2 linked regions of the Homo sapiens genome follow. Each later gene encodes a partner of the first gene's protein in a complex. Links are inferred from orthologs where the notes say so. Each region holds a gene or a part of one and is shown on either strand. Other genes may lie near its edges.

Region 1 (11,410 bases):
AACAATCTGATTTCACAGATTTTTTTGTTTCATTTTGTTGCTTCTCTTTTTCCATTTTACTTGAGTATAATGGTATCTTCAAATGTATTTAAACATTTAATTTCTAATGAATACTTTAAGGCATCTACAGATAAAAGAGACTCTAGATCTTTTCAAACAGCTAATAATAGTCAGAAAGACTTAACATTGGCTTCAGATTATTTTAATACTTCCTGATCAAACAACGGATGTCCGGTAAGGCCCCACCTGGATGTTTGAACGTATGGGTTGTCTTAAGTATTATTTGTATATTTCTAAACCACGCAGTTACATAAAAATGATAGGGTTAAATACTAAAATACAGTCTTATAAAGAGCAGGACAATTGATTTTGATGATTCAAATAAGGATTTGTTGTACACACACACAAAACCCCCAAAATCTCTCTATCTGAATAAGTCTTAATTTATATTCTAGAAAGAATTGATTTTCATTTCCAAACTTTACAAATAAAGCCCTTAATTCAAATGCACACTATCTCTATTTTGAAAATATTGAAATATAGTGGCATAGAGATAACAAAGCCAAACACCCTGACTTTTAAATAAACTAACCAGATCATTCACCCAATTTCATTTCTTATAATTTATTTACTACTAGAATTAGGTTTTAAAATCAAAAAATTTAAGCAATTTTTTCTCAGTCTATTGTACTGTAAAATCTAAATTAGTATGAGTTTAACATCACTCTTAGCCAAAATACCATGTCTAGGAGAACAAACATTTATTTACTACATACAGCAGTTCTGAGAATAACTAATATCATGAAAGCATAATCCTTAAAATTTTAAATGTTGAAGGGTGAGGAATACATTGGTAGAAAAGAACCACAATAAAATTTTATTATTTTCATTATTATTATTATTATTTGAGACAGAGTCTCGTTCTGTTGCCAGGCTGCAGTGCAGTGGTGTGATCTCAGCTCACTGCAACCTCCTCCTCCCAGGTTCAAGCTATACTCCTGCCTCAGACTCGCAAATACCTGGGACTACAGGTGCAAGCCACCACACTCGGCTAATTTTTATATTTTTAGTAGAGACAGGGTTTCACCATGTTGGCCAAGATGGTCTCCATCTCTTGACCTCGTGATCTGCCTGCCTCGGCCTCCCAAAGTGCTGGGATTACAGGCATGAGCCACTGCGCCAGCCATTATACTACTGAAACTAATAAAAATGGCCCACCCAAACTATTTCTACTATTTCTAGAAAACTACTGTTTTCCCTATTCTTGGCAGACGGTAATAACAAAAAGAGTTTTTTAGATAATATACTTCTTCCTAAGTCCTTTATCATGAATGCATAAAGGAAATTGTACAATATGTATTAGCTAATAAATTGACATATTTAAAATAACACAAAAGTATTCAGTGGATTATTTTCTGACTTTCTGCACATCATTTTTTGATAAAAATTAATATCCAACTTTGTAGAATTAATTGTTCATAGTTTTCATTTTAGTTTAATTAAGGCTACTAATGCCCAATGATAAGGGGAAGAATCATTGTCTTTCTGAATCATTTCAACTAGTGATATTTTCAATGATGAATTCAGTGCCATAACCCAAGTAGTAGAATTTCACAAACTGTCATTTATGAAAGTAGCCAATGTTCCACTGGATAATTGGCTTAACTACATACATCAATAACATTTAATGCTTTATTAGGGAGTATTAAATGTATGGTGCAATGTTAGATTCTGCAGGAGCATAAGAGTTCATGTAAGCAGCTCTGGATTTGCTTAATATGCACAAAGAACTATCAAAAGTCTCACTTTCAAAACACCCGACTTACTACAATACGTTGAAGTGTTTGAGCGTACGTGATTTTATCTTTAGATAGATTTGAATAACCTCCTCTTTTAAATTGTATGTATATAAGGATAGGATTCACAGATTTGACATATGACTAAGTCATGACTGACACAGCTGTCATTGAAATCCAGGACACACAGTCCTGGATGAATATTTTATATTGACATGCATTGAAAGAGTTACTCATTGCATGTTTGAGTAAACAGAGTTGCTTCAAATATTATTGACCTTAAAGAAAAGAAGGAAGGAGCAGAAATTTCAAGATCTCTTTAAACTCTACCTTATTTCCAAAGGTAAATGAAGTAGGCAGCTTCTCAGTGAAATAAAACCTGATGTCGTTGAAGGAGAGTAACAAGTGAGGGGTGGAAAGAGGGCCTGAAAGGAGTGGCTCTATTCAGGAAGATGAGAGGATCACATGGGCCATGCTGAAGACCCAGCTGGGGCTAGGAACTGCAGCTTTCTTTATAGTGCCCCTGACCTGAACATTTACTGCACTATACCCAGCAGTGCTATGTGAACATAGGGTAGGGAGGACAGATGGCTGGATTAATTCAGGATTGGCACTTTCCAGGGTCAGTACAGCTAAAGAACTAGAGAGTAAAGGAGTTGGAGTTATATGGCAGCGTACCATGAGATACAGATTGGATCAGGAAGAAAGTAAAACAAGGATATTTAATGCTTGGAAGAGAAGGTTAAAAAGTTTAAACCAACCCCAAAGTGTTTTGTTGTACTAAAAAAAAAATACTGCATTCATAATGTTAGAGAAACATGAATATTTTCCAAGTCAGAGCCCTAATTTTACTAAAATAGAAAGGAGCAAATACACCTTGTTTCTTTATGTACCCAATCATTGGGTCATGTCAATCCAAAAATAATCAATCAAAAGTTGGTAAGTCAATAGTCATATGCGAGAGCCCATAAAATACAAAGGAAAGGTAATGTCATGTCCTTCTCATCAAGCAGTTGATATCCAAGTCAAGCTTTTCTTCGGGTCCAGAAAAGGATTGTGTTCATTTTCATGTATTTGTTATTCATGTAGTCCTTGGATTGAGAGAAGAAATAGTGCCCTAGTTTAAACGAGCTCTGGCTGAGATGAAAGCTGGATAGTAGAATGAAAGTAAACAAGAGACAGTGTGCTGAGTCAACAAATATCATTAAATACAACTGATCCATGTGATTGTGTCAGTGAAAACCGGAAAGCAGATTTGGATAACTGGAAATATGGACAATGTGGACTTGGCATTCTGTGTGTAGAAACTGATATTGATGTACATCTTCTCTTATCCATCTGTGCATAATCAGTATGATCTTGAAGATGCAGTATGTCTTAGAGAAAGGAAGTATAAACCAACTTTAACCCTGAAGTTCAGCTAGTTCAGCTCTATCACTTCCTATTTTTGTGATATGTAGACAAGTTGTGCAACCATTTTTAGTCCCCATTTCTGGTCTGCAAGTGGAAATATTAATAGTATCTACCTTTTTTGTGTTAAATAAAAAGATAATGAATAAAAAGTATAATGCATGGCACATACCAGATTCTTAATCACTTTTAGATGCTAATATTAGTAAAAACAGTCAAACTTCACACAAGACTGTTATGTCACTGAATCTTATGGGAAGGTGTTAACTTAATAAAGTTCTTAGTAACACCTTCCATATTTCTCCATGTCTATTTTCCAAGACATTCTAAGACTCACTTCTTTGATCTTAACTGATCTCAACAGTTCATGTGACATCTCCAGTGTGTCACCTCATTGGAAAGATAACATTAATAGTAAGTCTATTACCTCTGCCACTTCTGCATCTGTGTATTGAGTGAAAATAACACTAGTGCATAAAGTTTCTCTCTTATAAAAGTAGCACATGGTATTTAAGATTGATTTTGAAAATGCAAAATACATAAAGTTTAAGACAGAAGAAGTCATCCATACTTCCAGGACTATTAACACATTGGCATATTTTCTTCCATTTTTTTCTACATATTTTTAAAGTCCTTATTAACATTGTGCTGCCTGCTATTTTTACTTAGCACTAAAGCATGAGCATATTCTATATTATTAGTAATCTTCCAAACGTCATGTGTGGTGACTAAATAATATTCTGTTTAGATAACAGTGTGCTAGTATATGTTTAATATTCACCTCACTGAGAAAAAAAAAGACGTGGATTTGTTGCTCTTGTTTATTTCTGCAGTAAAATACTCTATAGTAAAAAACTCTATTGTGTCTGTGGCCAGTCTCAAGCTACTATCAAATAATGAGCACTGAGTTGGGAAATAGCATGTGTAGTAGCATCCTTCATATATTATTTCTACCACACAGACACATTACAGATAACCTCAAGAACTTATATAATAATAAAATGTAGTTAAATCATTGGGAATTTCAAGTATTAATACTTTGTTTTTAATATATTTGATTATAAATGTATACAACTTAGTTTTTAATAATGATTGTATATAACAATCACCTCTCAAAATTCCTAAAAAATTACCAAGTGGCTCTTGCAAACCTGCGGAAGACAAAACTTGTGTGCCTCAATCTTCTCCCACTTGACTACGATTAATAGAATTTAGTACAATTGATCTGTTTTCTGCAGTAAAAGTCACCTATATGCCTTTCTATATGTGAGATTATTTCCTTAGGATAGATTCCCAGAGATGATGATGATGATGATGATGATATTATTATTATTTTAGAGATAGAGTCTTGCTCTGTCACACAGGCTGGAGTACAGAGGTGCAATCACAGCTCACTGAAACTTTGAACTCCTAGGCTCAGTTGATCCTCCCACCTCAGCTTCTTCCCAAGTAGCTGGGATTACAAAGTGTGTGCCACCATGCCGGCTAATTTTTAAATTTTTTGTAGAGATGTGGTTTCTCTGTGCTGCCCAGCCTGGTCTCAAACTCCTAGGCTCAAGTGATCCTCCCACCTCGGCCTCAAAAGTGCTGGGATTACAGACATGAGCCACCAACCACACCCAGCCTGAGATAAAATATTAACGGTATAATACATTTGAATGTAATAAAGACAAGGAAAACAATCAAACAGCCTGGGTTTCTTTTTCTAAATTATAGAATCAAGTAACATTTGCACAGTGCTCCATGTGGACCAAGGACAATTTTAAATGGTTTCCATTTATTTATTCCTTGTGACAAGTTATGTGGAGGCTATACATTATCTCCGTCTATAGCTGAGACACTGAGGTTAAGTGTGGTTAAGTGACTTGCAGAGTCGGTAAGTGATGGAGCTGGGATGTGAATTCAAGTCCTGTGCCACATTGCCTCTTTTTTTTTTTTTTTTTTTTTTTTGAGACAGAGTCTTGCACTGTCGCCCAGGCTGGAGTGCAGTGTCGCGATCTCAGCTCATTACAAGCTCCGCCTCCCTGGTTCACGCCATTCTCCTGCCTCAGCCTCCCGAGTTGCTGGGACTACAGGCACCCGCCACCACGCCCGGCTAATTTTTTGTATTTTTAGTAGAGATGGGGTTTCACCCTGTTAGCCAGGATGGTCTCGATCTCCTGACCTCGTGATCCGCCCGCCTCGGCCTCTCAAAGTGCTAGGATTACAGGCGTGAGCCACCGTGCCTGGCCGCTACATTGCCTCTTAATGTGTAGTTGCTCAATAGTCTTCCCTTTTTTTTTTTTTTTTTTTTTTTTTGGGACTGAGTCTCACTCTGTTGCCCAGGCTGGAGTGCAGCGGTGCGGTCTCGGCTCACTGCAATCTCCACCTCCTGGGTTCAAGTGATTCTCCTGCCTCAGCCTCCCGAGTAGCTGGGATTACAGGCCTGCACCACCACACCCAGCTAATTTTTGTATTTTTAGTAGAGATGGGATTTCACCATGTTGGCCAGGAATCTCTTGAACTCGTGGTCCTCCCCGCCTCGGCCTCCCAAAGTGCTCGGATTACAGGCGTGAGCCACCGCACCTGGCCTAGTCTTTCTTTTTAAACAGTAAAAGCATTCAACATCATCAATTAACCTTTGGGCTCATTGTTAACCACACTCCACAAGCTTAATAAAATATTGTTTTTGTTCTTTATCTCTCAATATCTAGATGATTATACTATTAATTGCTTATTTCATTCATTCGTTGTTTAGAAAATAACTTTTTATTGAGATTGACTTTCTCAAACTTTATGAATTATAAGTTTGCCTCCATTGCATTTTGAAAATTAACACTTCTTTGGCATTCTATCTGCTACAATTTTTTTCTATTATGAAAGCAATATGTATTCATTTTTTTAAAAAATCCTGTAAGATACAGAAAAACAAAAATATAAAATTACACATAATGCTCATAGCAAGGGATAAGTGCTCTTAGCATTTTGCTATTCATTCTTTCAGTCTCTTTCTCTCATATATGTGTGTGTGTATATGTAAGTGTATATATGTTGTATATATACACATACACACACATATATTATATATTATATATTATATATGTGTGTGTATGTGTATGTAATTTTATTTTGTAAATTTTAAGTTCCGGGGTACAAGTGCAGGATGTGCAGTTTTGTTACATAGGTAAACGTGTGCCATGGTGGTTTGCTGCACCTGTCACCCATCACCTAAATAACTGGGCTCAGCATGTATTAGCTATTTTTCATAATGCTCTCCCTCCCCCAATCCCACCTGCTGACAGGCCCCAGTGTGTGTTGTTCCCTTCCCTGTGTCCATGTGTTCTCATTGTTCAGTTCCCACTTATAAGTGAAAACGTGGTGTTTGCTTTTCTGTTCCTGCATTAGTTTGCTGAAGAGAATGGCTTCCAGCTCTATCCATGTCCCTGCAAAGGACATAATCTCATTCCTTTTTATGGCTGCATAGTATTCCATGGTGTATATGTATCACATTTTCTTTATCCAGTCTATCATTGATGGTCACTTGGGTTGCTTCCATGTCTTTGCTATTGTGAATAGTGCTGCAGTGAACATAGGTGTGCATGTATCTTTACAAATTTCAGAGGCTGTTATTTCATTGAGGAAAGAGAAGCATTTAAATAAGAAGCTCTCTCTTCAGCTGCCTACCAGCAAAGGGGAAAAACCTACCTCTCTGCATCCATCTTGTCCTCCTTCTCCCTCACTGTGCTTTAAGAGGACTTTCTCTTCCTATCCGTGGTTAACCCGTCTTTCTTCCTCTGAGCCCCACATAAATCTGCTTTCTCAGGGACCTATTTCCCTCAATTATCTCCTGTCTTTCTCCAATGTCCTACATTTTTGCTTCTACTAGGTGCTTCCAGTCAGCATTTAAACCCACTCTTGTCACCATACTCACCTCCAGCACCATGCAGCCCCTTTCTTCCCTTTTATTGTTAAACTCTGCTGCAAAAAGATGTCTTCCCTCTCCTCTTAGTTTCCACTTCCTTATCACAACCTAACCCCCACCACTGCAATCTGGCTTCCGCCAAATCTGCAAGCACCAAAATCAACATGACCTCCTCATCAGGAAACTCAGTGGGCACTTTTAGGTCCTTATTTAACTTAACGTCTCGGCAGCATTTGATTCTCCCTCTTTTGTGAAACGTGTGCTACTCTTGGGCTCTGCCAATAGCCTCCACTGGCTTTGCTTACAACTCTGATTTCTTCCTCTCAGTCTCTTTTCTAAACTCTTCATTCTCCCACCCATCTTTTATAAATGTTTGTGTTTTCTTCTAATTGGCTTAGGGCACCAGCCTCCCTCCGTCTTCAGGCTTTCACGGGTACCGTTTCCTCTGCCTGGAACACTCTTCTCTCTCCACTGCACCAAGCCAAATTTGAATCATCCTGTGAATGTGTGTGAATGTATTGTGTAGTTTTTTTTTATTCCTAGTTTTATCAAGTTCAGTGGTTGAGAAACATTATTTATCATGTTAAAGAAATACTATTATATTCCGACTCTACTAATGGTTTTCAAGTAGGGAATGGATAGTTAACTCTGTTACTGCCTTTTTGACTGTGATAGGTATCTTTTAAACTATGACTATAGTAAATCCTGTTTAAAGGACTTTTCTATTAAATTATCCTTATATTTTTGCAAGGATTTTTTTTCTGCCTAAATGCATAGTAATAATTTTGAAATTTATGATTTAATTTAATTTGCTTTTTAAAATTTTACTTTAGGGCTTTACATCCTGCTTGACTTACATTAGCATTGTTTTATTCCAAAGATTGATTTGAGAAGCTTTCTATACTTTATATTCCCTATAGCTTTTGTTTGTTTGTTTTTGAGACAAGGTCTTTCTCTGTCACCCAGGCTGGAGTGCAGTGGTGCAATCACAGCTCACTGCAGCCTTGACCTCCTGGGCTCAAGTGATCCTCCTGCCTCAGGCTCCCAAGTAGCTGGGACTACAGATGTGTGCCACCTGTACCCGGCTAATTTTTTTATTTTTGTATTTTTTGTAGAGATGCAGTCTTGCCATGTTGCCCAGGCTGGTCTCAAAACACCTGGATCCTTCAGTGGATCCTTCTGGGCTCAATGGATCATCCTGCCTCAGCCTCCCAAAGTGTTGAGATTACAGGTATGAGCCACTGCACCTGGCTCCTTGTAGCTTTTATGTAACTGGAGACTTAATTCTTTCTTAAGAGTTTTTTAAAACTTATCTGAAAAACTTTGGGGCATTATATTTTTTTCAGAAGTGTTCTTTGCTAATCTAATCTTTTTCTTCTGTGAGTATTGTTGATGATTTTACCCCACCCTTTACTACATGTGAACAATTTTGTTTTTAAAATTCTTAATTCTTTAGATTTTCATCTTTAAATATTCATTACTGTTTAGCTCTGTTGAATTGTGGTCCAAGAATGTGACATATAATCTGTTTTTAAAATTTATTTAAGCTTTAATTTTCATGGGCATTTGAAAATATGTGTCATCTATCAGGGCTTACAGTTGATGTGCATATCTGTTTAATTAATTTTACTAATTCTGCTATTCTGTTTTACTACATATATAATTATATTTTTGTCTTTTGATCTATAAACAGGATTGGGATTTTTTGTTTTTTTGCTATCTTTTTATTGTCTATTTCTTACAGATTTTATTATGGTTAGAAAATATAGACTATATAAAATCAATTCTTTGAGCTGGGTTAAAATCTCCTATGTAGCTTGGTATATTTTCTTTATGTTTGAATGTTTCATCTATGCATCATTTACAAAATGTATTCTGTAATTGTTTCATTGTTTTATAAATGTACATTATATCTAGTGTTAATTTTGATGTTTATATCTTCTATATCTTTACTGTAGTTCTGTTTGATATATTAGTGTCTGAAGGAGATCTCTTAAAGGGTTACACTATGTTAAAACATTTCTCCATGTACTCTTGTGATAATTTTACTTTTGGGTTTGAGTCCATATTTTTAAATAATTAAGTTTCATGATTGTCATATCTTTTTAGGGCTTGTTCCTTTTATCATTAAGCAATGTTTCTTTTTTTCTTATAAATGCATATGCCCCTATATTACATTTTTCTTATATTACTATTGCTATGTCACTTTCTTTGGGATATCGTTTGCTTTATACATATTTTCCCTCCCCTTTATTTTTAACATTTCTGTTTTATTTTATTTAAGTGTGTCTTTTGTGTTTGATAGCATCTGTCATTTCATAGGTCAGCTTATACCATTGGCACTTACTGTGATTTCTGGTATATTTGGACTTGTTTCTTCCATATTATTTTATGTCTTCTGTTAACCATGCTTTTTCTTGGCTTATTTATTCCTCCTCTTCTTCCTGTTTGTTTTTGCTTTTGTTTTTGATTGATAAAGCCTTTCTGGTACCTCTTTTTTTCTCTGTTGTTTTGGAATTTTTGAATTTTATTTATTTTTTAGTAGTAACCATTAATAAGGTTTTAACATAATCATTTAACCATAGATGCTTCTTTCTGTTTGAAGTTATTCAATATTTCTGTCCTCTTGTTTATGGCAAAGAGCTTAGCATTTTTTAATTACTTAGCATTTTAAACTTCTTTCCTGAACTTTGATCTTATAGTTGTTTGTCTAGAATTTAATTCCACTCTTTTTAAACACAAAAATTTGTGATTTTTTAATATTCCATAGTGTGTTAAAATTGCAATGGTATTTCACCACCATTTATGCTATTGTTTTTTATAACTCACCCCTTTCTTTCTGGTATAAATTATTCCTTAGTGAGTTTATTTACTCTAGTAACTATTTCAGAGAAAGTCTGTGAGTGGTAAACACTCTCAATATTTGTTTATAAGTGTTCTGAGTTTAAAATTATTACCTAAGCTAGCTGTGTAATTCTAAGCTAACAGTTATTTTTACGCAGTCATGTAAAGGTATTAGCCTATTGCCTTTTGGTATCAATTGTTGTTGCTGAATAATCTCAGGTTACCCAAAATTGGCATTCCTATTAAGGAATTAAACTTTTTCTTTCTGGTAGAGTTTAAGATTTTATTTATCTTTAATTTTTACAGTTTTAATTCAATGTGTCCAAGTATGAATTTCTTTCTTTTTTTCTTTTTTTTTTTTTCTTCTGAGACAGAGTCTCCCTCTATCACTCAGGCTGGAGTGCAGTGGTGCGATCTCAGCTCACTGCAGCCTCCACCTCCTGGGTTCAAGCGATTATAGTACTTCAGCCTCCCACATAGCTGGGACTACAGGTGTGCACCACCATGTCCAGCTAAATTTTTTGTATTTTTAGTAGAGACAGGGTTTCACCATGTTAGCCAGGCTGGTCTTGAACTCCTGAGCTCAAGTGATCTGCCCTCCTCGGCCTCCCAAAGTGCTGGGATGACAGGTGTGAGCCACCATGCCCAGCTGTATTTCTTTTTTAAATCTGTCTTGTCATTTGGTGGGTACTTTCGACCTTAATATTCCAGGGTTTGTTTTTCAGTTTTGAAAAATTATCAGCCATTTATCTCTTTATATATTGCTTCTAGGCTGCTCCCCTCTTTTATTTTTCTCAAACTCCTATCAGAGGTGTATTAGTGCCTGTCACTGTATACTTTATATCTCCTAACTATTCTTTAATAGTGTCCATGTCTGTATTTCTTTGTATTATGTTCTGTATATTATAATGATCCTTATGATATATATATCATATATATGATATATATAATGATCCTTATAATATATTATATTATATATAATATATATTATATATTATATATTATATAATATATATTATATATTATATATATAATATTATATATATTATATAATATATATTATATAATATATATTATATATAATATATATTATATATATTATAAGGATCGTTATAATATATATTATAAAAATTATTATAATATATATTATAACAATCCTTATAATATATATTATAATGATTATTCTGTTGAAAAGCTGGGAAGAAAGTGGCCCTGATGACTGTGTATAAGATGTCATTTTACATAAAAATTCTGCTTTCTTATTTCAACTACTATGTTTCAACTTTTTTATTTACTCCTTTTGTGAAGGCCTTATAAATACAGTTTTGTTCATTTAAACAGTACATCAGTCACTGTGCTCACCCTGGGAATTAAATGATGTCTAAAACATGATCCCTGACCTAAAGCTCAAGGTTTTAATAATTGAGTGTGGGTCAAAGACGTAAACAGATCATTTTAA
Region 2 (11,104 bases), on another chromosome or scaffold:
CCCCAGCCCGGGTCTCTGCACTGTCACGGCCTCCCCGGGGACGCCAAGGGTGCGGGCAGGCGGTGTTGGCTGGCGTCCCTGACGGCCACGCTCCTTGCAGACTGCCTGCTGATGCTGGTCTACAAGGACAAGTCGGAGCGTATCAAGGGCCTGCGGGAGCGCAGCAGCCTGACGCTAGAGGACATCTGCGGGCTGGAGCCCGGCCTGCCCTACGAGGGCCTGGTCCACACGCTGGCCATTGTCTGCCTGTCCCAGGCCATCATGCTGGGCTTTGACAGCCACGAGGCCATGTGTGCGTGGGATGCCCGGATCCGCTATGCGCTCGGCGAGGGTGAGTGACGGGGGCCGGGGCCGGGCGGGGGCTCCCCGTTCAGGTGTGCCGGGGCCCCTCACCAACGTGGGCTGCAGAGGTGGGAGCGGCTCCAGGGAACCGTGCAGGAAGATGGGACATTCATGGGTGCCTTAGGGTGGACTGAGCTCCAGCCTGGGGGTGCCCACGAGGGTTTGGGAGGGGGAGTCTGCTGGGCTATGGTGTCTTTAGAGCTCCCTAGCCTGACCGTTAGTTACAACTGGAGCCTTTAACCCAAGCTGGTGGCCTTTGGAGGGACGTGGCTTCCCAAAGCCCTGCCCTTTGCTTCCTACACTGGACAGTGGAGCCCAGAGCCTGGCTAGGAAGGAGAGCCCCAGGCTGGGCGGTCCCACCCCAGCTTCCCCCCAAAACAGGATGGGAGGGAGGGAGGGAATAGAGGGAGGGGAGAGGGAGGGGAAGGGAGTGCTCCCCTGTGGAACTGGCCCTGGAAGAGGTGGAACGTCAGTCCCAGCCCTGCAGGGGCTTCGAATGGGTGCCTGGGGGCCTCTGGGGGCTGAGCTGCCCTGGGGCTGTGAGCAGAGGTGGGTGGTGATGGGGCCCTGGGCACTCAGCGGCAGAGCAAGCATAATCCTGCATCTCCTAAGAAACCAAAATCAGTGCCAAAACCCCATAATGAGCAAAACAGTAGAATGTCCACTGAGTTGAGTCCTGGTCCTACCCTGGCACCCACCCAATAATCCCAGCAGCCACAGCTGCCCTCCCTTTAAAAACTTGCTATTTTAGGCTGGGCACGGTGGCTCATACCTGTAATTCCAGTACTTCGGGAGGCTGAGGTGGGTGGATCACCTGAGCCCAGGAGATAGAGACCAGACCACCCTGGGCAACGTGGCGAAACCTCGTCTCTACTAAAAATACAAAAATGATGGCCAGGTGCAGTGGCTCATGCCTGTAAACCTTGTGCTTTGGGAGGCCAAGGCGGGCAGATCACCTGAGGTCAGGACTTCGAGACCAGCCTGGCCAACATAGCGAAGCCCCATCTCTACTAAAAATGGAAAAATTAGCCTGGTGTGGTGGTGGGCACATGTAATCCCAGCTACTCAGGAGGCTGAGACAGGAGAATCGCTTGAACCTGGGAGGCAGAGGTTGCAATGAGCTGAGATCGCGCCATTGCACTCCAGCCTGGGCAACAGAGTAGGACTCCATCTCAAAAAAAAAAGAGCTGGGAGGTGGAGGTTGCGGTGACCTGAGGTTGTGCCACTGCCCTCTAGCCTGGGCGACAGAGTGAGACCCTGTCTCAAAAAAACAAACACAAAAAAACTTGCTATTTTGATCAGCATGGACTCTGCATAACTTTACTTTTTAAAATATTGATTAAAATATCCTGGCCCTTGATGGCTGAGTTCTTTGGCCTTGGAGGTGAGTGTCCCGCTCCCCCAGTCTTGTCCCCAAGGCAGCAGCCCCTCCTGCTCCATTGAGTGGGGAGAGAGAAGCTGGGGGCTTAGTGGGAGGAGGTGCGGTTGGCTCTGCAGGAGGGCGCAGGGGAAGGAGACATTAGGAGGGAAGAACTGCATCTTTCCAGAAAGTTCTCCCGTTGGGGGTTCCCTCCAGCCTGGCTCAGCGGCATGGGTCTGCTTCCTTCATCCGCTGGCGCAGGGCCATGGCACAGAGGCCGCTGGGCACCGCCCAGGCAGCTTCATCTTGATAGAACGTGGCCTGACAAGGATGCGCCTGAGGCCACAGCTTGGAGCAGGTAGAGGAGGCAGAGAAGGGGGAGGTGGGATGGGAACAGGGGTCCCTTTGGCTCTGGGGGTTGGAGATGGAGCAGGTGGGGCCCCTGGTGGGGAGGCTGCTGTCTGCCTGGTGTGCTGACCTGGGAAGACAGGGGAGGTGGGGACAGCATTCAGGACCACTGTCCTCTCTGAGGCTTTCAGGGGCAGGGGCCTGGGCAGAGCCAGTGCACAGGACCATGGGGGTGCTCAGGGTTTGGGTGAATGGCCACCTGGATGGAGAGAGGGCCGGTGGTGCCCTGAGGTTCCCGTGGCCAGGCTGGGGCCTCGATACAGACTCCAGACTCTCCACACCCGAACTGGAGGCTGGGGGATCCCTGAGCCTCGGTTTCCCCTTCTGTGATGGAGCCACACAGCTGTGGAGAGAGAGCCTTCCTGGAGAGGTGCCGGGGGTGGGAGCCCAGCCAGGGCACTCAGCTGCCCTGTCCTCCCTAGCACCTCCGTGGTGGGAGGGGAGGGAGGTGGAGGTCCGAGGTCAGGCCCCTCTGGGACTTCCTTGCCCCTGAACAAAGATAGTTCCTGGGAGGATGGCAAGGAGAGAAGTGCAGCCCCCAGGCCCCCTCGTGGCTGTGAGGAGTGCCATTTGCTCATCCTGCCGTCGCTGCCTCCCCGGCTGACACCTGGGCGGCTGCCCCCACCTGCCCCAGCCTGGCCCCTGCCCCTGCTGCCTCCTCCCGAGATGCCCTCTCACCCCACCTGTCCACAGTGGCCCCTGTTGCCTCCTCTCATGATGCCCTCTCGCCCCGCCTGACCGTGATGCCCTCTCGCCCCGCCCACCCTCGATGCCCTCTCACCTCACCCGCCCATGATGCCCTCTCGCCCCGCCTGCCCGTGATGCCCTCTCACCCCACCCGCCCGTGATGCCCTCTCACCCCACCCGCCCGTGATGTCCTCTCACCCTGCCCGCCCGTGATGCCCTCTTGCCCCGCCTGCCCGCAGTGCATAGGTTCCATGTGACAGTGGCTCCAGGCACCAAGTTGGAGAGCGGCCCGGCTACCCTGCACCTCTGCAATGATGTCCTCGTCTTGGCCAGGGACATCCCCCCGGCTGTCACGGGGCAGTGGAAGCTGTCTGACCTCCGGCGCTACGGGGCCGTGCCAAGCGGATTCATCTTTGAAGGCGGGACCAGGTGTGGGTACTGTAAGTACGGATGTGTGGGGTCACTGGGCAGCAGCAGCACCCCCCACTTCCCCTGAGAACTGCTGGCTTCGGGCCGGCCGACCCCACTTGCAGGCTGGCCTGCTGGCATTTCCAGAATGCGCCGGCAGGTGGACGGAGTCTCCCCACGCTCGATGTCCAAGGTCCTCTGCCCGCAGGAACCTCAGTGTGGAGTGTCGAGGAGGGGCCTCGGCTACCTCTGCTCTTCCTCACTGGAGGGAGAGAGTTCAGGGATGCGAGGAGGGGCCTGAGGCCACAGAGCCTCAGAGCCGCTCATATCCAGATTTCATGGAAAGGAAAAAACAAAGAACAAACGCATTTAGCAGTGGGGAGTGTGAGCTCCCGCATAAGCACCGCAGAAACATATTCTTGGACCAAGAATTCCTGGTGGACATGCCAGCCACCCCGCCTGTGGGCCGCCCAGAGCTGCCCTAATGTCCCCAGTGAGGTGGCCAGGCCGTGGGTGGGGATGGCCTGAGTCCTCTGGGCCTGTGAAGGCCTGAGAGCTGTCCTCACTCAGCCAGGGGAGTGAGGGAAATCGGAGCAGGAAGGCACCCAGCCCTGCCCAGAGAGTCTGAGGTGCCCGCCGGGGCTGTGCAGGAGCAGGTTGTTCCAGCAACCCCCTCCACTTTCTCCCATGTTGGGTGCAGATGCGCCAGGTTGCCCTGTGGACCTGCAGTCCCCGCGGAGGGTGTGACGCCTCCTCTCTTCTCTCTGGAGGGGCAGCTGCTCATTGGCCGGGCTGAAGGCGGGCAGAGGGACCTCCTGTGGGCCTGGTTTGGGGCTGAGAGGACTGAGGGACTGCACTTGGCTCACACTGGTGGGGGCTCTGGTGGAGCCTGGATGTGTCTGGGTGGAGGAAACGCAGGCAAGGACACGGGCCACACTGGCCGCCTGGGACCTCATCCTGCAAAGGCCAGCTGGGGCACGGGCGCAAGCCCATCTGGGTGCCACGTTCTGCCACCTTCTGCGCTGGGCGCTGGGAGCAAACCCAGTAGGTCTTGTGGCAGGAGCCAGCCCTGTTGGGGCCTTTGAGGAGACGACATCTGACCCTTGAAAGGGGAACAGGGCAGTGAGGCTCAGGCTCCACGGACTGGGGGCGTACACAGCCAGCTGCAGGAGGCACGTGCGGCAGAGCTGGCCCGGAGTCTCGGCCCCTGGGGCTGGCAGGGGCCATAGCCAGAGTCCAAAGGGCCTTGGCCCCTCTGGGATTGGAGAGCCAGTATGGATGGGCAGGGCCGCTGCCTATGCCAGCTGTGAGCTGGTGCGGGGGGTGGGGTGGGGGGTGGTTCCCGGGAGAGCTAGGACACCTGTCGGGGTCCCATCTGCCCCCAGGCCCTCCCTGCGGCAGGCCAGAGGTTCAGTACTGGGGCTTCGGGAGCCACTGGGGAGTGGGTTGGCGGTGGCTGGGCACAGTGGGTGGGCCCAGCGTCCCTGTCCTTTGTCGTGTGGGAAGCCAGAGCTGCAGGCTGTAGTTGTCCTGACACAGGCAGCCTGTCCTGTCTGTTGTGTGCTAGGTTTGGGGGTGCCTGGAGGAGGGGGACCCATACCTTCCTTTCTGTCTGTGGAATTCCTTGGCACGGGCAGGCAGCCGGCCGGGGTGGCGCCGCGTGCTCACCCTCTAAGCCGGGGCACAGCAGGAGGACCCGTTTCCTTGGAGACCTGCTTATTTTGTCTGGGCCATAATGGAATGGGGACACTGGATGTTTTTCCTCTGAGGCCGTGGAGGTTCACATCCCTGCCGAGGTGTGGGTGGCCCCTTTTCCGCTGGTAAACAATCCCACACCTGGGGCTGTGCTTCTCCCCAGGGCGAGGCTACTGTGCCGTTTTCCTGGGCTGCTCAAAAGCTGGGGGCACTCTTGTGGGGCCGTCTGTCTTGCTGCTGCCTCTCCGGGGCAAGCTGTTAGAGCAGCCCCACCCGCAAACCTGCAAACCAGGCTGGCCCCACAGAACCTGAAAACCTGCAAACCGGGCTGGCCCCACAGAACCCACAAACCTGCAGACTGGGCTGGCCCCACAGAACCCGCAAACGGGGGCTGGCCCCACAGAACCCGCCTTTGCAGCTCAGTGCTGAATGTTCTCGTCCCCGGTGGTACCCTGGCCTGAGAGAGGAAGGGCTCTGGGAATTCGGTCACCGACGGCTGCACACCCCGTAGGGTAGGTGGGTTCTGGAGGCCAGGCTGGAAGGCTTGGCCGAGCCACCCATCCCTGTCCCCAGCAGGCCCTGCTGGGCTGTATCCTCCTGGAGACAGGCGTGGCCACCACCCTGGGTGGTTTAGGCTGGGTCTTAGACTCGGCCAAGCGGTGGTGTTCTCAACGCAGCACTGAGTGCAGGCCGTCTGGCTGGAGGGACGGGGAGTCTGCGGCACGTGTGGGCAGCCTGGGGCCTCCTGCGGGAGGGAGCCGGCAACTCGGGTGGTCCAGGGGCAGCGGCATCAGCTTCCTGGGGCTTCTGTAGCAGATGACCCCCAAGAGAGGGCCAAGTGTCCAGAACGGGTTCCTTCTGCAGCCTGGAGGCCAGAAACCCCAAATCAAGGGGTCCTCAGGGTTGGCTTTTTCCAAAAGCTCTTGGGGAGGACCCATGGGAAGGTCCTTCCTGCCCCTTCCAGCCGCTGGTGGCCCCGGCGGCCTCGGCTCGTGGCTGTGCCACTCCAGTCCCTGCGCCTGCTGGCTCCTGCGTGAGCCTCCTCTTCAGTCTCTTGCAGTCTGTGGACTTAGGGCCCACCTGGATGACCCAGGGTGACCCCATCCCGAGACCATCAATTCCATCCGCAGAGGCTCCTGTTCACAGGCCCTGGTATGTGAACACATTTTGTGGGCCACCATTTGGCCGACAACTGGGGCCACTGGGACGGAGAAATATCCAGAATCTGAATCCCAATAAGTCTGTGGGTGTCGTCACATTCAGTCTGGAGGTCACAGCTGGGCTGGAGTCGTGGGAAGGCCCTGGAAGTTCTTGGGTGTAGGAAATCCACATTCCCTCCTTCCCCAGGGACAGGTCCTAGCCTGGCCCCCGATCCCCAGAACCGCCTCACTTGGCCCCGCCACAGCCAGCTCTGCAGAGAGCAGAGAGGGTGACCCTGGCCCAAGGCGATGGCTGCGCCTCACTCATCCTGAGACACTGGGCGTGGCTGTGCATCACGGGGGCCCTGGTGGGGGTCGGGTGGAGACAGGCCTGGCTGGTCTTGGTGCCTGGGGGGCAGAGGTCTCTCTGTGGACAGCTGCCTGTTCAGAATGGGACAGGAGGTGGCTTGGTGACAGCAACCCCCGGGTCCCCAGTGTGGCCCAATTCCCCGTCTCTGTTGGTCACGGGCCTGTAGTGTGGACTCCTGGAGCTTGGCCCGAGCGCACTTGGCACATGGCAGGCGACGGTCTGTGGACAGCTCAGGTCTGCAGGCTCCAGCCTCACACACGGGCAAGTGACTGGGCCCCGCCTTCGGGGATGGACTGTGCGTGGTGGAGAGTGATGCAGAGAGGGCCACTCGCCCTGGGACAGGCTCAGCTTGCAGCACAGACGGTGGTGGGCCCCAGAGAGGGTGAGCCCACCCAGAGCCTAGGAAGGGAGGGCTTTGGAGGCGCAGGGGGACGTTTGAGCTGGGCCTTGAGGGTGAATGGAAGCTTTTGGAGGTGCCCCCTTTTTCCCCCCTTACCTGCTCTCTCCAGCTGGGTCCAGTCCAAGGACCATATCTGCCTCTTTGCCCAGCCTCTGGGGGCCGCCCGGAGCATTTGAAACTCATTTTGACTTTTAAAAATGATTAAGAATGTGGCCAGGCACAGTGGCTCATGTCTGTAATCCCAGCACTTTGGGAGGCGGAGGTGGGAGGATCACCTGAGGTCAGGAGTTCGAGATCAGCCTGGTCAACATGGTGAAACCCCATCTCTACTAAAAATACAAAAATTAGGCAGGTGTGGTAGCAGGTGCCTGTAATCCCAGCTACTCCAGAGGCTGAGGTGGGAAAATCACTTGAACCTGGGAGTTGGAGGTTGCAGTGAGCTGAGATCCCGCCATTGCAGTCCAGCCAAGGCAACAGAGCCAGGCTCTGTCTCAAAAAAAGAAGAGTAAAGAATGAAAACCTGAACTAGGAGGCTCTTGCTACATGAACGCGGCATCTGCCCAGCTCTGGAGAGCCCCCTGCCGGCCACCTTTGGCCACTGCAGCCTGCGGGGGCAGCCTGGACAGAGCTGGCTGGAACCCTGGCCTCTGTCAGGCAGCAGGGAGCGCCTTCAGCAGTTTCTCATTGCCGGGCGCTGGGCCTAGGGATCAGACGGTCCGGCCTCAGAGGCTGCGTGAGACTGAGTGAGGCATTTTCAGTCCTCAGAGGGTGCGAGGGGAGCCAGGAGGGGCACAGACCCCAGGCTGGGGGCACTGCGGGGAAGCTCTCTGGAGGGGCGAGCCTCAGGGGACTTCTGCAGGGTGAATAGGAGTTAGCTCAGCTGTCAGAGGGTAAGGGGTGGAGGGGGGTGAAAAGGGCACTTCAGACATCTTTGAGCACGAATGGGTGTCCCGAAGGGCTGTGTAGGAGCCCTGTTGGGGGGGATAGGAGGCGTGAGGGTGGAGGAGGAGGAGGAGACAGGGCTGGGTTGTAGAGAGCTGGCTAATTGGACCAGTGTTTGTTTGCACCATTGTCTCGGAGCAGCAGGGAGCCATTGAAGGTGCTTGAGCATGGGGAGTGTTTTATATGCTAATGTTGACCCCGGGGTGCAGATGAGCTTGGAGGAAGAGGCTGGCAGGGGCCAGAGAAGGTTCTGATTGAGGTCCAGAAGATGGAGGGCGAGGCTGCCCCAGGCAGCAGCTGCCTGGTTGGGGGATGGGAACCCTGTGGATTGCAGGAATGTTAACAAGGTGGTGATGGACAAGGGGAGGAGGGCCGGCCCGGGAAGGGGGGGCCTTCTAGAGTGGTGCCCCTGGACTGGGGCTGCTTCAGGAGGGCAGAGGAGGGGTGGGAGCCAACACCCACTGCCAGGCTCCAGGCCTTCCTCCACCCGAGACCCACTAGGTGGGGCCACTCCCAAGTGTACAAGAAGCTGCCACCTTGGGGGATGGAGAGGGCTGAGGGTCATGTTATCAAGACTTCTCAGTCCTGCCCATGCCTACCTGGCATGAGCCATCCAGGACACCCTGGTCACCCCGATGTTTGTTCTCTGAGGAGCTGGGATTATGAGCACTTAAGATTCTGACATCAAGGGGCAGCCACGAGGGCACTCAAGAATATTCAGATGGAAACCATCTTAGATCTAATTGGCTCATTAAATGTCTGCGTGGAGGAGCATTTTCTTTCTCAAGCCGGTGAGTCCTGGAGTTAGTGCAACAGCTTTTTCACTGGAGACGTGTTTCTCAGGAAGCAGGTGCGTCTGTAACGTGGGTGAGGTTTGCCTGCCGCTCAGCAACCCCAGCCTCTGTCCAGAGTTGGCGCCGCCCTGAGCCCCGCAGCTCCTGGCCTTCTGCTTGTGTTCTGCTGACTCTGTCCTGCTTCTCTGCGTCTTCCATGCTCTTTCCTCTTACCCTCACGCCTCCTATCCCCCACAACAGGGCTCCTATACAGCCCTTTGGGACACCCGTTTGTGCTCAAAGATGTCTGACGTGCCCTTTTCACCCCCCTCCACCGCTTACCCTCTAACAGCTGAGCTAACTCCTATTTACCCTGCCACACCTAGCGGCTGGCGGCTGTTCCCTGGCTGGCAATTCTGTGGGCCAGGGATCTGGACGGGGCTCAGTGAGGACAGCTCATCTCTGCCCCATGAGGTGCTGCCTGGGGTCCCTCGGGCAGTGGCATTTGGCTATGGTGGGGCCCAAAGGCCCAGGAAAGCACTGTGCCGGCTGTTGGCTGGGTTGCCTCAGTTTCCCTCCAGGAACCTCACCCTCCGATAGGACACCTTGGGCTTCTCAATAGGTTCCAAGAGAGCAGAAGCTGCCAGGCCTCTGACGGTCTTGGGGCAGGGCTGGGAGAGCATCCCTCATGCCACTTTATGCCAGAGCCATCACTGGCTGGCTTCGATTCCAGGGAGGGAGTGGACCAGCCTCTGGAGAAGGAGCGGCCTCTGAGGGCAGGGATAGGGGAAACAGAGTGGCCGGCTTTGCTGCAGTCACACCTGTGTGATATAGCAAAATGGGGCAGGCCCTGTTCTCCCCCCTTTCCCCAAACACACAGGCAAACAGGAAACATGCGCACCCTGTCTTGGGGAAGGGGCAGGGGGGCGGTCAGCAGCCTCTCACCTATGTCTTTCCACCCAAGGCCGAGCACTGGGGGTCTCCTGGTTATGGGCGCTTGGGTGGACACTGAGACCACAGACGGCTTGTGCTCCCTGCCGGCAAGGTGCTCAGCCTGGCAGCCGGGACGGCAGCAGGTGGGGCTGAACCCCAGAGGAGGCGTCCGTGAGAGCACCACAGAGGGGCTGTCGGGGTCAGGGGACTGAAGGGGGCCAGAGGCCAAGAAAAGCATCATGAAAGGTGTCGTTATGTGGCCTGAGTCTGGAAAGGTCTGGGGTGTTCTAGGTGGCCAGGGGTGTGGAGGGTGGGGGTGGCAGCCTCCTGAGTGGAGATGTAGGGGTGTGGAGGGTGGGGACGGCAGCCTCCTGAGTGGAGATGTAGGGGTGTGGAGGGTGGGGACGGCAGCCTCCTGAGTGGAGATGTAGGGGTGTGGAGGGTGGGGACGGCAGCCTCCTGAGTGGAGATGTAGGGGTGTGGAGGGTGGGGACGGCAGCCTCCTGAGTGGAGATGGCAGGCAGACCTGGTGTGCAGAGGGAGCTTTGAGCATTCCCAAGACCGGGGGGGGCTGGGTGGGAGCGGGGGTGGAGCATGAACCCAGGGAGGCCCAGCGAGAGCCTAGTCGTGCGGTGTCCTGGGAGGCCATGGCCCAAGACCTTGGCAGACCAGCATTGGAGATGGGCATCTTCCTCCAGGGCCACTGATGTCAGCTCTGCTGGCATGGATGATGGGGGTGGCTGGCGAGGGTGTCGCGTGGGCACGTGGGAGCCCGAGGCTGGCGGTGGGCTGTGCTCCAGGCCTTGCCCGGTTGACCGTGTCTTCGGGGTGAGTGACGCTCCGCAGACGCCGCATGGAATGCGGGGCCGGCTCCACTCCTTCCGTAATGTGGTTTTTTATAGTCGGGGGACTCATTGTCCCGTGGCCACTGCCAGCTGTCTGTAAGCTCAGGATTAGAGAGCCTGGCCTTTCGTGAGAGCTGGGGCTGTGCCGGCTGAGCCCTTCACAGGGAGGGGTGGACCACGGGGACAGGGAGCGACTGCCTGGCACTGAGTGAGCCAGCCAGCAGACAGCATGACGGCCTTCTCCTTGCCTGCCCCCAGGGCCTGGTGCAGGCTCTCTTCTGCCCACCCTACCCAGCTTGGGGGCCCCACCCCATCACGGCCCTCATGAGCCTCTCGGGGCATCCTCCTGGATGGCATCGCAGCGGGCATTGGCCTCCCCTCCATGCCCACCTCCAATTCTGATCAGGAGCACCCCTCACCCACAGTAGGACTGGAAGCTCTATCGGGCCAGAAGGTGCACAGGGGGCCAGGGGACTTGGACTTGAGTCCACCTCGTGGCTGTGTGATGGTGGACAGGTGGCGTGCCTTCTCTGGGCCTCAGTGTCCTTTTTGCTAAAGTAGGAATGGCGCTGTCCCATGACCCGGTTTGGGGACACTACGTGGAAGGAAGCATCCACAGCACAAGGTGCCGCTCGCCCTCGTGTGCCCGGGGTGGCTGCCAAGGGGCCGGCAGCGTCGCCACGTGTCGGGGCTGGCCTGAGTTCCGTGTCCCTGGAATCTACAGCCTGTGTTCCGTGAAGGCAGAGCATGACTGGGCAGCAGGCAGCGGGGGTTCTAATGCCGAGATTTCCCTTCCCCCCAA

What was found.
Region 2: the proteins of MUSK (region 1) and DOK7 are in contact, whole or in part, in a crystal structure (PDB 3ML4), measured with the Mus musculus proteins. The link is inferred for Homo sapiens from one-to-one orthologs. Residues at the interface, in NP_035074.2 of Mus musculus: Leu547, His548, Pro549, Asn550, Pro551, Met552, Tyr553, Gln554, Arg555; in NP_001335203.1 of Mus musculus: Leu154, Ser155, Asp156, Leu157, Arg158, Arg159, Tyr160, Gly161, Gly172, Thr173, Arg174, Ser193, Asp197, Val200, Arg201.

What each region holds. Positions count from the first base shown.
Region 1 is NC_000009.12:110,670,084-110,681,493, forward strand, and holds part of MUSK (muscle, skeletal receptor tyrosine-protein kinase isoform 1 precursor), read left to right. Parts: intron 1-11,410.
Region 2 is NC_000004.12:3,473,306-3,484,409, forward strand, and holds part of DOK7 (protein Dok-7), read left to right. Parts: intron 1-100; coding exon 101-331; intron 332-1,634; exon of another isoform or gene 1,635-2,453; intron 2,454-2,995; exon of another isoform or gene 2,996-3,036; coding exon 3,037-3,237; exon of another isoform or gene 3,238-9,110; coding exon of another isoform or gene 9,111-10,145; exon of another isoform or gene 10,146-10,602; intron 10,603-11,104. Other genes in the region: vegetative cell wall protein gp1-like, read right to left, coding at 9,111-10,145. UniProt on the Homo sapiens protein: Probable muscle-intrinsic activator of MUSK that plays an essential role in neuromuscular synaptogenesis. Acts in aneural activation of MUSK and subsequent acetylcholine receptor (AchR) clustering in myotubes. Induces autophosphorylation of MUSK.